Linked DNA regions of Homo sapiens. The protein of the gene in region 2 interacts with the protein of the main gene of each other region in a biochemical or structural test. Each region holds a gene or a part of one and is shown on either strand. Other genes may lie near its edges.

Evidence for each region. Proteins that work in one complex are often made in the same cells at the same time.
Region 1: of the proteins of CDC7 (region 2) and RAD18, one has a biochemical effect on the other in vitro, tested with the Homo sapiens proteins (one study listed by BioGRID).

What each region holds. Positions count from the first base shown.
Region 1 is NC_000003.12:8,956,973-8,960,472, reverse strand, and holds part of RAD18 (E3 ubiquitin-protein ligase RAD18), read left to right. Parts: intron 1-1,471; coding exon 1,472-1,553; intron 1,554-3,500. UniProt on the Homo sapiens protein: E3 ubiquitin-protein ligase involved in postreplication repair of UV-damaged DNA. Postreplication repair functions in gap-filling of a daughter strand on replication of damaged DNA.
Region 2 is NC_000001.11:91,517,851-91,521,350, forward strand, and holds part of CDC7 (cell division cycle 7-related protein kinase), read left to right. Parts: intron 1-682; exon of another isoform or gene 683-825; intron 826-2,279; coding exon 2,280-2,429; intron 2,430-3,500. UniProt on the Homo sapiens protein: Kinase involved in initiation of DNA replication. Phosphorylates critical substrates that regulate the G1/S phase transition and initiation of DNA replication, such as MCM proteins and CLASPIN.

The DNA of each region.
Region 1 (3,500 bases), on a different chromosome or scaffold from region 2:
TTCAGGTAATAGGTTCACATGGTTCAAAATACACATAAAATAAAAAGTAAAAGTCTCCTTCTTACCATGTTCCTGGCCCTGATCATTATTTATGACTTCTTGTTTATCTTCTCATTATTTACATTTACAATGAAAATAGAATGCATTCTTTTTTCCTTTTTTTCTTTTTTGAGATAGGGTCTCACTGTCGCCCAGACTGGAATGCAGTGGCAATCACGGCTCACTGCAGCCTTGAACTCCTGGGCTAAAGCAATCCTTCCGCCTCAGCCTCCTGAGTAGCTGGGACTACAGGCATGCGCCACTACTCCCAACGAATTTTTAAATTTTTTATAGACATGGATTTTTGTTATTTTGCCAGGCTGGTCTCAAACTCCTGGACTCAAGCAGTTCTCCTGCCTTGGCCTCCCAAAGTGCTAGGATTACAGAGCCACCATGCTAGGCCTATTAGAATACATTCTTACTCACCTCTTCCTTTTAAACAAACCGTAGCATAGTATATGTACTGTCTATACCTTATTTCCTTTTTTCACTTATCTTGGCAATCTTTTCATATCAGTATGATGGAGAGCTTCCTCTTTTTTTTTTTTTTTTTTGAGACAGTTTCACTCGGTCATGCAGGCTGGAGTATAGTGGTGCGATGTGGGCTCACTGCAACCTACGCCTCCTGGACTCAAGCGATCCTCCCGTCGAGAGCTTCCTCCTTTTAAAAAATATTTCTGTTGAATGGAATAATATTTTATTTTAAACAATTTGAAAGATTTTAGGTTGCCAGAGTAGTTCCGTTCCTGTTTGGATTGCATTCCAGGTTGGCACACATCTCTCTTTCCAAGTTGTCCACTTTCCCTTCCTCTGCTTTCACTGCCCCAGCTCTTTCCAGGCTTCCTCATTTGGCTGCATGTGTAGTACCATGCCGAAAGCACTGGACTGCCAGACGGGAGACAGGAATTTTGGTCTTGGCTTGACTGATGCCTACTATTGTGTGCCTGCTTTTGATACCAGTTTCCTCTTTTGACTAGACAGTTTCTGGAGTTTGGCTTTAACATTCTTTGATTTGATTCTTAACTTGTGTGGTGGCAATGGCCACCTTTCACCCAATAGTGACTATAGGCTAGGTGTTGGAGTCTGAAGAGGAGGAGGCTTGGAGTAAGAGCTGGAAGCGCATTAGAAGTGGAACAGAAGTACAGTAGCCCTTATGTGAAGGGATGACAATATGGCACAAGAATCGGTGTGCCATCATCTTTAGCTGTCTAAAGCAATTTGGGCAACCTGAGACTGAATGTATAAGAGTCATATGAGAGAAGTTTTTATTTATTTGTCAAGATCCCTTGCAGTTTATCTGGAGTTAGCTTTTGAATTTGTGTATTTGACAAAGAGTTTGATTTTTTTTTTAGGGGATAGAGAAAAAGTTTTGTGACAGGACTTCCAATTTTGATGTCTTTCTGATATGTATATATGCATATTTGCATTTCAGACAATAGATGATTTGCTGCGGTGTGGAATTTGCTTCGAGTATTTCAACATTGCAATGATAATACCTCAGTGTTCACATAACTGTAAGTATGTTTTGTTCCTGTGAGTTAGTAAATTGCGATTTTTACATGAGGTAGTGTTAATTTAACACCAAAGATATGTGCACATATTTATGTTTCACCTTTAGCTCTTCTATCTTGTAGTTTTTCAGAAGGTCTTTTTCACTGCCTTCCTCTTGAATATTGAAGGTTTTTACAAGGCTTCTATATTTTCTACCTCGTTCCTCTTTGATATTTTTATGATTCTTATAGCATTTATGGCAGTAAAATTTTTGGTCACAATAAGTGGTTCTTTATTTGCCAAGTGTTTTTTGACGTTAAGTTTCAGAATTTTTGTTTTTAACAGGATAACAGATAGGTGGTTCCACCAAGTAGTACTTGATATAGAATTTCAAAGTTTAAAAATCTGTAACAATAAGAATATTGCCCCAGTGGGAGAATTCTACCACTGACTTTATTACAGACAGTTTTATACCTTAACTGCTATGTGACGCTGGAAAGACTCATGTTGGAATTTGTTTGTACTTCTCTTTAAGAGTCTAGTATATAAGCATTTAAAAATATCGTACCTTAAGATATTTAGTGCATAGGGGTTACCCTATCATTGTTGAGGAGCTAGACATACAGTTTATGGGTTATTCAGGTTCATGATCTTTCTTGTCCTCTATTTTCAAGTTGATTTATCTTGGAAAGTTAAAAACAGTCAACTTAGGCCTAAGAAATTGGTTTTAGTTGGTAGTAGCTTTGGTGGAAAAGTTTCTGTGGAGAAGACATAGTAAGAGGGTAGCAGTGACGGCAGCACGGGCATTGCAGATGCCCTTGGGCTTGACTCTTGAAAATCGGGTGAGAATTTACTACTTTAGAAAATGTTTGTGAGAATTAAATGTGCAGAACTCACTGTCCGGCACATTATGAGTCCTTAACAATGTTAGTTTTCTTCCAGACAAGATTCACATTAAAAACCAAGATAAGTTTTGGAGATTGTTTTAAAATATATTTTAACATCATCTTTATTTGGGTGTAATTTACATACAATAAAATACATCCATTTTAAGTGCACATTAAGGTATAAAAGTGTTCATGAATTTTGACAAATGTGTATGCTGTGTTACTACTGCAATTAAGATACTGAACATTTTCATTATCTGATAAATTTCTCCCCATCTCAGTCAGTATGACCTCAGCTAGCCATCTGTAGTCTATTTCTGGACTCTTCTATTCCATTGATCTTAGAAACTTAGTAGTTTTTCACCAAAACTACTGCCCACTAAAACCAATTGTTTAGGCCTAAGTTTACTGTTGCTTTAGCTTTCCAAGATAAATCAACTTGAAAATAGAGAACAGGAAAGAGCATGAACCTAAATAATCTGTAAACTGTTTGTCTAACTCCTGAACAATGATAGGATAACCCCTATTGCAGTAAATACCTCAAGGTACAATATTTTAAAATGCTTATATGCTAGACTCATATATGTCTATCCTTGTGCCAGTACCACACTATCTTGATTACTGTGGCTTTGTAGTAAGTCTTGAAGTCAGGCATTGTAAGTCCTCCAACTTTTTTTTCTTCGTTTTTTTTAGGATCGTTGCATTTTAAATGCATTTCCATGTATAACTTAAAATCAGGTTGTCAATTTCTACCAAAAGCCTGCTGGGATGTTCACTGGAATTGTATTGAATCTAGAGATCAATTTGGGAGAATTGACATCTTAACAATGCCGAGTCTTCAGTGTATGAATATGATACACTTCTCTATCTTTATTTCTCTCAACAGTGTTGTTTGATTTTCATTGCACAGACCTTGCACAAAGAAATATAACTTATATTGACCTTTCGTCTTCTGACTGCAGTAAATTCACTTTAATTCCAGCATCTTTTTTGTTGATTCCTTAGAAATTTTTGCATACACAATCATGTCATTTGTGGATAAAGACAGTTTTACTCATTCCTTTCTGATCTATATGCCTTTAT
Region 2 (3,500 bases):
ACTTTGGGAGGCCAAGGCAGGCAGATCACTAGGTCAGGAGTTCGAGATCAGCCTGGCCAATATGGCGAAATCCCGTCTCTACTAAAAAGTACAAAAAATTAGCAGGGCATGGTGGCACACACCTGTAGTTCCAGCTACTGGGGAGGCTGAGGCAGGAGAATTGAACCCGGGAGGCAGAGGTTACAGTGAGCCAAGATCGCACCATTGCACTCCAGCCTGAGCAACAGAGTGAGACTCAGTCTCAAAAAAAAAAAAAAAAAAAAAAAGGTGATACAGTAGCCCAAGGAACAGAGAGCAGATAACCTGGTGATACTAGGAAGTCAACAATTAAGAGAGATGTCAACTTTAAGAAAAAAAAAAAAGAGCTTTTTAACATCAAGTTGAGCTAGTCGTAATCTTTAACTACCAGAATTCAGAAGATTAAAGTTTCTATAGTGGGAATGTAAATTAGTACAACCACTATGGAAAACAATTTGGACGTTCCTCAAAAAACTAAAAATAGAGCTACTACATGATCCAACAATCCCACTGCTGGGTATATACCCAAAAGAAAGGAAATCAATGTACCGAAGAGGTATCTGCACTCCCATGTTTGTTGAAGCACTATTCATAATAGCCAAAATTTGAAAGCGACCTAAGTGTCCGTCAACAGATGAATGGATAAAGAAAATGTGGTACTTACACACAATGGAAGTACTATTCAGCCACGAAAAAGAAGATCTTGTCATTTGCAACAACATGGATGGAACTGGAGATCATTATGTCAGGTGAAATAAGCCAGGCACCGAAAGACAAGAGTTGCATGTTCTCACTAATTTGTGGGATCTAAAAATTAAAACAATTGAACCCATAGAGAGCAGAAAGATGGTTACCAGAGGCTGAGAAGGGTGGTGGGAGGGTGTGGGGGATGTGGGGACAGCTGATGGGTACAAAAAATAGTTATAAAGAATGAATTATCCAGCACTTTGGGAGGCCAAGGCAGGTGGATTGCTTGAGCTCAGGCACTCGAGACCAGCTTGGGCAACATGGTAGAACCCTATTTCTACCAAAAATACAAAAAAGTAGCTGGATGTGGTAGTGTGCATCTGTGGTCCCAGCTACTCAGGAGGCTGAGGTGGGAGGATCACTTGAGCCTGGGAGGCGGAGGTTGCAGTGAGCCGAGATCACACTACCACACTCTAGCCTGGGTAACAGAGCCAGACCCCATCTCGAAAAAAAAAAAAAAAGAATGAATTAAGACCTAGTATTTGATAGCACAGCAGGGGGATTATAGTCAGTAATTTAATTGTGCAGTTTAAAATAACTAAAAGAGTACTTTGAGGGGCTGAGGCAGGCAGATCACTTGAGCCCAGGAGCTTGAGACCAGCCTGGCCAATGTGGCAAAACCTCGTCTCTACTAAAAATACAAAAAAAAAAAAAAAAAAAAAAAAAAGAGCTGGGCATGGTGACATGCCTGTAATCCCAGCTACTCAAGAGGCTGAAGCATGAGAATTGCTTGAACCTGGGAGGCAGAGATTGCAGTGAGCTGAGACTGTGCCACTGCACTCTAGTCTGGGCCACAGAGGGAGACCTTGTCTCAAAAAGAAAAAAAGAAAAGAATATAATTGGATTGTTCGTAACACAAAGGATAAATGCTTGAGGGAATGGATACCCTGTTTTCCAGGATGTGATTATTACACACTGCATGCCTGTATCAAAACATCTTATATACCCCATCAATATATACACCTACTGTGTACTCAGAAAAATTAAAGTCTTCACAGTCACAAAAAAATAAAAAAGTAATTTTTTAAAAGTTTCTATAGCAGTAGTTGGTGCTAGTGTCAGCTGAAGAAGAGCTTCTAATGTTCATTACTTTTCACTAAAATGAAAGCACTTTGACCAGTATGGTATGTAATTCTCAAGGATCATTCAGATTTTTTCCCACATAGCTATTTTTGGATTCCTTTTGATCCTATAAAATGTGCGTTTACTTAGTGTTTCCTAGTGATTAAATATCCTTTTAAATTTACCAACACGTTGCTCAAGAAAGAAAACATATTTTGCAGTGAGGATTCTCAGTCCTGGTTGTACATTAAAATCACCTGAGGAACTTTTTTAAAACATTGATGCCTGAGCCCTACTTCAGAACTGTTCAATCAAAATCTTTGGGTCTGGGCATCTGAAATTTTTAAGGCTCCCAAGGTGATTCTAATGCATAATAAATGTTGAGGACTATTGATTTAGATGATAAAATTATAGATTTGAAATTTATTTTTAAAATTTGTCTTCTGTTGCAGCAATTGACATGTGGTCTGCAGGTGTCATATTTCTTTCTTTGCTTAGTGGACGATATCCATTTTATAAAGCAAGTGATGATTTAACTGCTTTGGCCCAAATTATGACAATTAGGGGATCCAGAGAAACTATCCAAGCTGCTAAAACTTTTGGTAAGCAGTTTTGTATTATAGAACCAAACAAAATGCCTTTGATTATCTCCTACAAATCACTTAATAAATTATTGTGAAATTTTCTTTACAAATAAACATTCAGTCTTGATAAAGTTCTCTAATATTAAGTAGAAAATTCTTCAGTTGCTTGAAAATAAATTTATCACCTCTCTATACATATAATCATTTAATCTTATTAAGCACAAAGTAATACACTGTTGCAGTATTTAAAGTTTACCTTTATAATTTTATAAGAATAAGGAGTAAAATCTTAACTCCTTTTAGTTATGGTTTGACTTTTATTACATAAATTTACCTTTTATTAAAGGCATGTTTTACTTTGTAATATGTTTTACTTTTTTATTGTCTTTTAAACATCAGATGCACTATGTCTTGGTACTTAGAGTGTCCTTGCCTTAAATGATCTTAGGCTATACTAACAAGTAAACAGTTAATTATTAATACAGTGTAATAAGGACTAGGGAAGAGAATGGAAATGTGTGTTGTCAGGTTGTGTAGGTTTACGGTAGCAGAGAAGCAGAATGCATAGAAGGCCTTAACTGATGGGATATTATTGTAAGCATATATTGGACTTGGATGTCATCTCCTTAGCCACGCAAGTTCTTCAAGACTGGGATGTGCAGTGTACTTCATAGGGCACATAAGAATTATCTCAGCCTTGCTCTGGCCAACAATCTGAACTCAAGTGCCCATTTAATGTTTATTTTCCACGCTCAGTTATAGTTAATACTTTCCAAGGAATAAGTGGGATTGACTCAGCTTACTACCATACAATACAGAACACCTCAGGAGACAAAGTTTCAGCCAGCCTACCTCAAGAGTAGCTGGGCTGTCTTGTGCTCAACCCCAGGATCAGTGGGTCTTAACCAGAGTTGCATGTCAGAATTATCTGAGAATCTTTAAGAAATACATATGCCTGCCCACTCAGCCTATTCTTGGAAAATATGATTCAGAAAAACAAGATACTTAGGAAGGCTCCAGCCTTGTTAGTTTGAAAAAGCAAGTGATTCTGACTAAGAAACTATGGGTGTTTAAGAACCACTGCAAAAA